Regions from separate parts of the Homo sapiens genome. Here region 2 is linked to region 1. A link means that fine-mapping ties the variant in region 1 to the expression of a gene that starts in the linked region. Tissue or cell type: whole blood. Region 1 holds a variant in brackets; the other region holds the start of a gene. All regions are shown on one strand. Distances are from middle to middle. Region 1 has its middle 11 kb from the start of ARHGAP17. Region 2 holds the start of LINC02175 (long intergenic non-protein coding RNA 2175).

Region 1 (5,494 bases):
TAGATTGCGGTGACGCGATCATGGCTCACCGCAGGCTCAACATTGCAGGCCCAAGCAATCCTCCCACCTCAACCTCCCAAGTAGATGGGACCACAGGCATGTGCCACCACGCCCTGCTAATTTTTTTATTTTTTTGAAGAGATGAGGTCTTCCTATGTTGCCTAGGCTGGTCTCATACTTCTGAACTCAAGCAATCCTCCCACCTCGGCCCCCTCAAAGTGCTGGGATTATAGGCATCAGCCACTGTGCCAGCTGCTTTCTGGGGAAAAAAAAAAAAAAAAAAATATATATATATATATATATATATATACACACACACACACATACATATATACGTATATATACATATTAAAAAAGTGCATATTTGCATATATGTCAGTGTATTCTCTGATTTGCTTTCTATTTATTCTTATTTTATTATGTATGTATTATGTATACACATACATACACATATATACACATATACACACACACACAAATATATATATCTCACTACATCTTGGACATCTTTCCAGATTCTGTGAATGATTTCATCATCATCTTTCTTTTTTTAGAGACAGGGTCGGTCTCTGTCATCCAGACTGGAGTGTAGTGGCACATCATAGCCTATGGCAACCTCAAACTACCAGGTTCAAATATTCCTCCTGCCTCGGCCTCCCAAAGTGCTGGGATTACAAGCATAGCCACCAGATCGGGCCATCTTATTTTTTCTTTTCTTTTCTTTTTTTTTTTTTTTTTTTAGATGGAGTCTTGCTCTGTCGCCCAGGCTGGAGTGCAGTGGCACGATCTCGGCTCACTGCAAGCTCTGCCTCCCAGGTTCACGCCATTCTCCTGCCTCAGCCTCCCGAGTAGCTGGGATTACAGGCGCCCACCACCAGGGCCGGCTAATTTTTTTTTTTTCAGTATTTTTAGTAGAGACAGGGTTTCACCGTGTTAGCTAGGATGGTCTCGATCTCCTGACCTCATGATCTGCCTTCCTCGGCCTCCCAACGTGCTGGGATTACAGGCGTGAGCCACCACGCCTGACCCAGGCCATCTTATTCTTTCTAAAAGCAGATGTTCATCCTATGCATATACTGTAATTTATTTAACTAGCTCCTATTCGTCAGCATTTGTTTGTGCCCCAAATCCTAGGAAATGTTCATGGGCAACTCCCTTGTTTATTTCCTCAAGGGCCTCTCCAAATCTTTATCACTTTGCTCAGGCATGATCATGCCTTATTAAGACATTAGAGACCAGCAGTCAAGACCCCCATACCCCCTTCCTGTATCCCACCATCCTCTCTTCATTCATCTATACTCCTTCCCTTTTGTTTCAGAGGAAAGGGATCCAGCTTTGCAATTGAAGGCTAACAGTCCCCTGGACATTATCTATTCAGACTTCTTCAAAGACCTCATTCTACTGATCTCCCATTCTGCTTTGTCTTTCATCTGTCTCTATCCCTAAGCACACAAGCATGGCTGTTTCTCCTGATACATCACATTCTCCTTTCAGCTCCTCCAGCAACCAACCACCGTATCTCTCTATCTTTCTATCTTCTGAAAGAATTCTTTACTCTTTATAAGTGTCTCATTTTGTAATGACTTCTTTTTGAAAGTTCTACAAAATCTTGTCTCATTTATGCCCCAGGAATCTTCTCATGGCTAAATCCAATGTATATATATTTTTGTCTTTGGTTCACTTAAGTCTGATAAATATTAACCACATGTTCCACATACTCATTCTTTAAATTCTTTTTTTTTTTTTATTGAGACGGAGTCTCACTCTGTTGCCCAGGCTGGAGTGCAGTGGCGTGATCTCGGCTCACTGCAACTTCTGCCTCCTGGGTTCAAGCGATTCTGCTGCCTCAGCCTCCCAAGTAGCTGAGATTACAGGCACTTGCCACCAGCCCAGCTAATTTTTTTGTATTTTTAGTAGAGATGGGGGTTTCACCATGTTGGCCAGGATGGTCTCGATCTCCTGACCTCGTGATCCGCCCACCTCGGCCTCCCAAAGTGCTGGGATTATAGGCATAGGCCACCGTGCCCAGCCTCATTCTTTAAATTCTTTCTGCCTTCTTCATTTTTAGTGATACCACTCTCCTCAGGTTCCCTTCCTCACACCAGACCCTTCTTTCTCAGTCTCTTTTGTGGCTGCTTCTTCTGACACCTCTTAACTATAAACATACTCCAAGGTACCATCTTTAACTAACAGGATCTTCTCATTCTCCCTGCAGTGTCAGGGCCAGCTCAACCACTCC[C/A]ATGATTCTGCTTTCACTGGTATGCCAATGACATCTGAATGTCTATGTCTAACCACCTCATTCTCCTGATGCCACACTGGTTTATCTAATTGTCTGCTGAACACATTTATCAGCATGTCCATAAGCATCTCAAAGTCAACATGTCTTAAGAAGAAGCATCACCAGTCACGGTGGCTCATGCCTGTAATCCCAGCACTTTGGGAGGCCGAGGTGGGTGGATCACGAAGTCGGGGGATCGAGACCATCCTGGCTAACACGGTGAAACCCCGTCTCTACTAAAAATACAAAAAATTAGCTGGGCGTGGTGGCGGGCACCTGTAGTCTCAGCTACTCGGGAGGCTGAGGCAGGAGGATGGCATGAACCCGGGAGACAGAGGTTGCAGTGAGCTGAGATAGCCCCACTGCACTCCAGCCTGGGCAACAGAGCAAGACTCTGTCTCAAAAAAAAAGAAAAAAGAAGCATCATGCCTGTAATCCCAGCATTTTGGGGAGGAGGATTGCTTGAGCCCAGGAGTTGGAGACCAGCCTGGGCAGCATAGGGAAACCCTGTCTCTACAAAAAAATTAGCCAGGCACGGTGGCTCATGCCTTTAATCCCGGTACTTTGGGAAGCCAAGGTGGGTGGATCACTTGAGTTCAGGAGTTCAAGACAAGCCTGGCCAATGTGGTGAAACCCCATCTCTACTAAAAATACAAAAAATTAGCCGGGCGTAGTGGTGCACACCTATAATTTCAGATACTTGGGAGGCTGAGGCAGGAGAATAGCTTGAGTCCAGGAGGCGGAGGTTGCAGTGAGCCAAGATTATGCCACTGCACTCCACCCAGCCTGGGCGACAGAGCAAGACTCTAACTCAAAAACAAAAAAATTTTTTTTAATCAGCTAGACATGTTGGCACATGCATGTAGTCTCAGCTAGGCACACTCATGTGGGTGTGTCCAGAGGCTGAAGTGGGAGGATTTCCTAAGCCCAGGAGGTAGAGGCTGCAGAGTGAGACCCTGTTCAAATAATAATAATAATAGAAAAGTAAAAGAAACTCAATATCTTCCATTATAGCCTTCTTATAACCCAAGGAAGAGGCCTCAGAACCATGACTGATCTCTCTCTTTCTCTCTCCCCTGTATTTTTGAGACAGAGTCTCACTTTGTCACCTGGGCTGGAGTGCAGTGGCGCAACTTGGGCTCACTGCAACCTCCACCTCCCAGGTTCAAGCAATTTTCATGCCTCAGCCTCCTGAGTAGCTGGGATTACAGGTGTGCACCACCACAGCTGGCTAATTTTTTGTATTTTTAGTAGAGACGGAGTTTCACCATGTTAGCCAGGCTGGTCTCGAACTCCTGACTTCAGGTGAACTGCCTTCCTCGGCCTAACAAAGTGCTGTGTCTCTCTCTCTCTTTCACACCCCCTTCATATCCAATGAACCAATGAATATATCACATTTTGTTCCTCTTTTCCCTGTCCCCATGTCTGTGGTCCATTCCTTCCTGTCCTTATATGGACTGGGGCAATTGACTCCTTACTGACCTTGCTGGTTCCACTCCTGGCCTCCCTTGAATCCATTCCCCACACCGCCATGAGGGTGGACTTTCTGGCATGAAAATCTGATAACGTTGCTTACCTACTTTAAATTATTTCAGGAGTTTCCACTGCCTGGAGTCCAAACTTTAACAGGGTATTTGAGGACTTGCCTTTAGAGCCTTGCTTTCTACTCATAGACCACCCTCCAGCCACGTGTCACTTCTTGCAAACCCCAAACAGACTATTACCCAAATAACTTTAAACCCATAAGCCTAATCATAGCAGGGTGATGCCTTCAACAAAGTTTGCACTAGAAACATTTTACTTTTATTTTATTTATTTATTTATTTTGAGACAGAGGCTCCCTCTGTCACCCAGGCTGGAGTGGAGTGGGGCACGATCTCAGCTCACTGCAGCCTCCACCTCCTGGGTTTAGCACCTAACCACGAGAAAGAGGACCACAGGGCGAGGTAGTCTTCAAAAACATGAGCTTTACAGATGTCCCCCAGGCTGGCCAATACAGGCAATTGAGGGACCTGTGTGGCACTGGCATAGGAATTGTGGGTCCCCGCTGAGGTGTGACTAATCGATGACTGTGGTGACAGGGAAACAGGAGTGGAGGTGTGAAGGGATGATGTGCATTTTCCACTTTGTAACTTAAATAAGAGTTCTTCCAGGAGCACGTATGCCTCTCGAGCCTGCTGCTTGGGGATATCAGAGAAGTGGAAGGTTCTATTAATGCCTTCTCCAAGAGCCCATGAGGCACTGTGGATTCTGAGATGTGAAATAAGTACCCTGATCACTACCAGTAATGTGTAGGACTTCCAAGAGTATATGGAGTGCCACAGTGAGACCTTATATTGTGGCCTTTGTATACGTAGATGTAGAGATATCTTTTTTTTTTTTTTTAATTGAGAGAGAGTCTCACTCTGTCGCCCAGGCTGGAGTGCAGTGATACAATCTCAGCTCACTGCAACCTCCACCTCCTGGGTTCAAGTGATTCTCATGCCTCAGCCTCCCAGGTAGCCAGCTAATTTTTGTATTCTTAGTAGAGACTGCCATGTTGGCCAGGCTAGTCTCGAACTCCTGACTTCAAGTGATCCTCCTGCCTTGGCCTCACGAAGTGCTGAGATTATAGGCATAAGCCACCACACCCGACCATTTTAAAAACATGAGTTATCTATTACCTCGGTTTATATTTTCAGTATTTATGAGGCAAGAGATTCCCAGAGTTCTTTATGAGCACAAAGGGAACAATTCTTAGACAATGGCCCAAGAGTTTGCTATAAATATGGAGATGGAGTCATTTGTTGGCTAGGGCATTGCTGTGGTCTGAATGTTTCTGTCTCCCTGAAACTCAAATGCTGAAATTTTAACTCCCAGTGTATTAGGATGTGGGGCTCTTGTGAAGCGATCAGGCCACGAGGGCAGAGTTATCATGAATGTGATTAGTGTCCTTATAAGAGAGACCTGAGAGAGACACCTCGCTCCTTTGACCAAGTGAGGATACAGCAAGACAGCATCATCTATGAGTCAGAAAGCAGGCCCTCACCAGACACAGAATCTGCCTTGACCTTGGACTTGCCAGCCTCCAGAACCATGATAAATAAATTTCCGTGGTTTATTTTTATGTATGTATATATGTATTTATTTTTTGAGACAGGGTCTCTCTCTGTCACCCAGGCTAGAGTGCAGTGGTGCAATCATAGTTCACTGTAGTCTTGAACTCCTAGACTCAAG
Region 2 (5,262 bases), 41 kb after region 1:
TAGGCTCCTCATGGTGTGAGTCTTCCCTCCTTGCAACAAGTAATAAACCCAACTTGCTTAACTACAAAGTGTTTCATGTGGTCTTTACTGGAGGACATTCACAACTGTAAGAGTAAAAAAGGATGGTTAAGTTTCTTGGGGAAGTTAAGGGAGTCTCATTCTGAGGGCTCCCATTTTCTATGTTAAGCAATAGGTGAAATTATCTTCTTTCTTTATTTTTTGAGATGAGGTCTCACTCTGTCACCCAGGCTGGAGCCCAGCAGCGTGAATATGGCTCAATGCAGCCTTGACCTCCTAGCCTCAAGTGGTCCTCCCACCTCAGCCTCCCATGGAACTGGGACCACAGGCTCTCATCACCATACCTGGCTAATTTATATATTTTTTTTGTAGAGATAGGGCCTTACCATCTTACCCAGGCTGGTCTCGAACCTCTGGCTCAAGCAATCCTCCCATCTTGGCCTCCCAAAGTGCTGGGATTACAGGCGTGAACCACTATGCCACAGTTGAGTTTAGAATGTTTATTTAAAATCTTGTGACACTGAACTCAATGACTAGTTCTCGGAAAACTTACTTTTTAATAGTGTATTGTGGTGTAAGGCCTGAAATTAGGATTCATATCAAATTCTGTCTTTACATCCATTTAAATCAAGAGGGCCTCAAATGGCTGAACTCCAAGCCTCGCTCCCTGTCTGCTTCCGCAGATGAAATTCTCTGGCTAAACACTCTCCTTATTTTAGGGATCAGACACAGAGCCTGCTTATCCCCAAACAGTAGGCTTCAGTTCCCTGCCAGCTCAAGGACGAATTATTCAGACAAGCCAGTCACACCCTCCCGTGGGAACCAGGGCTCACTCTGCACTTTTGTTACTACAAAGCCTGCCTCCAGCAGCCCCTCCTTGTTACCGTGTTCCGGAGTGTAGCCTCCACATTGCCCTGCATAGTGTGCAGGGTCCTTCTCCCCTGGACTGGAGTATCTGTGACCAGTCAGCTGCTGTTGATTGCATCCGTCCTGCATCAAGTGTTGTGTGTTCGGCCATCCCCGTATCTCTGGGGGTGGGGACAGGGGCGGGGGCAGGAGCGTGGGGGGAAGGAATCCCTCTTTCATCAATGGAGTAAAGAGTGTGAATAAAACGATTGGCATCACAAACAGTGTGGCCCATCCTTGATTGAGGACCCCTGGTTAGCTTTAACTAGCTGCTCCTTTACTAAGTAGCTGGTTTTGTTTGTTTGTTTATTTATTTATTTAGAGACGGAGTCTTGCTCTGTCTCCCGGGCTGGAGTGCAGTGGCGCGATCTCAGCTCACTGCAACCTCCTCCTCCCGGGTTCAAGCGATTCTCCTGCCCCAGCCTCCCAAGTAGCTAGGACTACAGGCGCCCACCACCACACCAGGCTAATTTTTGTATTTTTAGTAGAGACGGGGTTTCACCATACTGGCCAGGTTGGTCTTGAACTCCTAGACCTTGTGATCCACCCACTTCAGCCTCCCAAAGTGCTGGGATTACAGGAGTGAGCCACCGTGCCCGGCCTAAGTAGCTGGTTTTATAAGGCGGCCAGGACTATTGAGAACATCACTGCCAGTTGCTGGCCAGCTTGCCCTTCAGCTAATGAGTTTTGTTATCTCAGTAGGTGTTGCCACTTCTTCCCACCCTGACGAACGTTAATGGACTGTATCTCCTTGTGAGGTCCCATCAGGTGTGGCCCGTGTCGGCCAGGTGGTTTCCCAGGCTCCCACCTGGGGGCAGCAGCAACACGACATCCTAACGGGTGGGTGCCTGAGTTCCACTAGAGTGAGGCTAGACTCTGTGGTCTTTGGTCTAGCCTCATGACCATCGCTCCATCACCGGCTGCTTGGGACAGCCAGGCAGACACTGTTTGGGAAAGTGTTCCAGCATAGTCCTGTGGATAACCCTTTTTCCTTTCCCCAAACACCAGGGTTTTTGGAACCATCACCTGGGAAGATTTAGGAATGGCTCCCTGGTGGTCTCCTAACAGCCTAAAGACCCCATGGGCTTTTCTTGGCGGTGTTGCTTATCTGCATGCCAAAGGACCAATCCTGTGGGCAAGGGGCTCGATGGCCCCACCTGGACCCTAGACAAAATGAACGTACTAGGGGGATCCCAGCACTGAAGATTTGCCTGGCCTTCCTGGGGGAGCAGTATGGCCGCCCACGGAGCCGGCTGCTGGTCTCCCTTTCCCATAACCTCCCGGAAGATCCACACCACGAATGATCTGATGGGGACAAAAACCCCGGGACTCGAGGGACCGTTGCGGCGGACCCTTAAAACACCTGGCAATCCCATTAAATTGAAACATGGTACATATTTTGCTCTTCTAGTTTTGGCTAATACGTTCTATTTAAAGGGTCTCCCAGCCACAGTTTGCCAGCGGGCAGGCGGCGCCGCAGGAAGTGACCGGGCAAGAACGGGGGTCGCCGCCCAGCTCGGCCTTCTGGTCTCTGCGCCCTCGGCCTGGGGCTCCAGGCCACAAGGGGAGGCCGTGCTGGGCGGGCCCGAAGGGGGTGGGCGGGGCCCCGGAAGAGACGTGGGGGCGGGGCCAACGGACCGCGGAGGCGGAGCCGCTACAGTCTGGGCGCTGGAGCGGTGGGAGCAGCGCTCGTCCGCCGTTGGGGCCCCCAGCCCGCGCGCGTGAAGCAGCTAGCCGACCAAGCCCCGGAAGGCGAGTGCCGGAGGGGGCGGGACAGCTCCTCCGGGGCCAGCGGGCACCAGGCTTGGGGGCTGAGGCCCAGCGGCCCGAGACCAACTGGGCTGACCGAGGCCGCCTCCCCGCCAGCCCTGGGGTCCACTGCCCGGGGAGCAGCTCCCTTCCCAGGTCAGACTCGGGCTTCATCCTCTCTTGCCGCGCGCCGAGCGGTTTTCAACTCTCACTGCTAGAATTCCTCCAACCACCCAGGATAGCAGGACCGAGATACATGGCCACCCATGACCCGGAGCGTCCACTTCCAGGGACAGGCAGTGGTGATTGGCTTCGGTTGTCATCTGTGCCATCTGTCCATGGTTCGAGAAGCTGCTGTTCACGTTTTGGGGAGGATCATGGTTTGAGGGCTCCCGTGGTAGAATTTGGGGAGCTCTCATAGGCAGAAGGCTGAGAAAAGTTGGTGCTGTGGGAAGTCAACTGGCAGCCGATGGAGTCGGGACCCGGGAGGAATGGAAAGGGAACCCAGATAGGAAGCTACTGCAGTAGGCTCAGAGAGGTGATGACGGCAGGGCTAAGACAGCGGCCTTGGGCGGTGACTGGGAAGAACGTTGAACACCGTGTTTGGGCTGAAGAAAAGAGCAAGGGAAGAGGTGAGGAACTTCAGGTGAGGGTTGATGTAGATGTTACTTACACAGGTAACAGACATTCTTCACCTTTTCATTGTTTTACAATGATTCATTCTCTCTCTCTCTAACATATAATTGTGATATTTTCACCTGTAGTCCCAGCTGCTCTGGAGTTTGAGGCAGGAGGATGGCTTGAACCCAAGAGGTGGAGGCTGAAGTGAGCCAAGATCGCGCCACTGCACTCCAGCCTGGGCGACAGGGCAAAACCCTGTCTCTAAAAAGAACTTTTTAAAAAAGCACCTGTAGATTTAAGCACATAATAACTACACTTTTGTCTGTTTTATTATGATATCAAAGTTAAATTTATGATGAATGACTAACTGGACAAAACTGAGAGCAACCACCACAGAGGTGAATATACTGAATGTATAACACTCTCTAATAATTTTAAGAACTCCGCTCTAATGAGCAGATATCACAGAAAGAGACTTTTCAGATGAAATACCGATGACCAGGAAATCTGTGAGACCATTTTAAAAAATTCGAAGTCATTGAAGAAATGCAAAGCTTCCAGGCTCCACTTTTCACTGATGAAATTGGCAGAGTTTGGGACAATGAGATGTTGCTGTCCCGGGAGTGCGGATGGGGCTGTGTCCTGTGATGGCGGTGGGCACTGGCACTCTTGTCCAGAAAGACATTCACCACTGTGGTTCAAGAAGCACCTCAAAGGTCTTCACCTTGGTCCCTTGTCCACCTCTGCCCGCGGTCTCTCCTCCTTTCAGCCTCCTCTTTCCCACACAGTCCCTCCCGCCCTGGCTTGGTCCCCTTTCTTCTGACTGGGTCAGGCATGTGGGTGACTCTTTGACTTCCAAGGCTCTGTCTACTTGGCTTTTTTCTTTCACCTGTTCTGCAGAATAACAGCCTGATTCGTTCCTCTTTTTGGGTCCTTCACTTCCATACCTGGGATTCGGGGCGTGGCCCAGAAAGACCCTGCAGTCTTGCAGTGTGGGGCTGCCAGCATTTCATGGCCTCCAAGCTCAGCTGGGCTGAATGAACGCTGCCATCCAGCGCTTGGCTCATTTTCTGTCCCATTTTCCTGAGTGCTTTTGCCAGACTTACACTTTTCTGAAAGCTACTCCACCCTACCCCAGACACACCCTCTCTCCTCGGATGACCTGCCTCCTAATTTCCTGAGAAAACTGGACATGGCCACCTTTCCCCAGTGTCTGAGGCCCAGGTTGACCCGTGGTCATGGTCGCTGTCACCACCCACCTGCCTGTATGACAGAGTGAGACCCTGTCTCAAAAAAAAATAAAAAGAATGCCTCATGTTAGGCTGGGTGTAGTGGCTTATGCCTGCAATCCCAGCACTTTGGGAGGCTGAGGCAGGAGGATAGTTTGAGCCCAGGAGTTCAAGGTCAACCTGGGCAAGAGAGGGAGACCCTGTCTCTACAGTTAATTTTTAAAAATTAAGGCAGGGCATGATGGCTCGTGCACGTAATCCCAGCACTTTGGGAGGCTGAGTCAGGACGATTGCATGAGCCCAGGAATTCAAGACCAGCCTGGGCAATGTAGAGAGACCTCCATCTCTACAAAGAATTTTTAAAAATTAAGGCAAGGTATGGTGGCTGATGCCTGTAATCCCAGCACTTCGGGAGGATGAGGTAGGAGGATAGATTCAGCCCAGGAGTTGGAGGCTGCAGTGAGCCATAATCACACCACTGCACTCCAGCATGGGCAACAGCGTAAGACCCTATCTGAAAATACATAAATAAAAGAAAAAGTTAGCTAGGCGTGGTGGTGCATTCTTGTGGTCCCAACTACTCAGGAGGCTGAGGTGGGACAATCACCTGAGTATGGGAAGTCAAGGGTGCAGTGAGCCAAGATGGTGCCATTGCACTCCAGCTTCGGTGACAGAGAGCCAGACCTTGTCACCAAAAAAACGAAAAGTCTCCTGTGAAAAATGACAATTTCCAGTGGAA

What was found. PIP is the estimated chance that this variant, and not a neighbour inherited with it, causes the effect.
Region 2: it holds the start of LINC02175, and the variant in region 1 is the best candidate, but not a certain one, in a credible set for the expression of LINC02175 in whole blood (TOPMed, PIP 0.87).

What each region holds. Positions count from the first base shown.
Region 1 is chr16:25,023,671-25,029,164 of GRCh38, forward strand. No RefSeq gene overlaps it. Among named protein-coding and RNA genes, the nearest start is that of ARHGAP17, 11 kb to the left of the region's middle. The variant C/A (reference allele first, on the strand shown) is at 2,240.
Region 2 is chr16:25,064,342-25,069,603 of GRCh38, forward strand. It overlaps LINC02175 (long intergenic non-protein coding RNA 2175), which reads left to right and starts at 2,546. Exons shown (of 2, transcript NR_135197.1): 1 at 2,546-3,305; 2 at 3,438-4,614. It also overlaps the pseudogene SCML2P2. RefSeq lists a silencer at 2,449-2,838.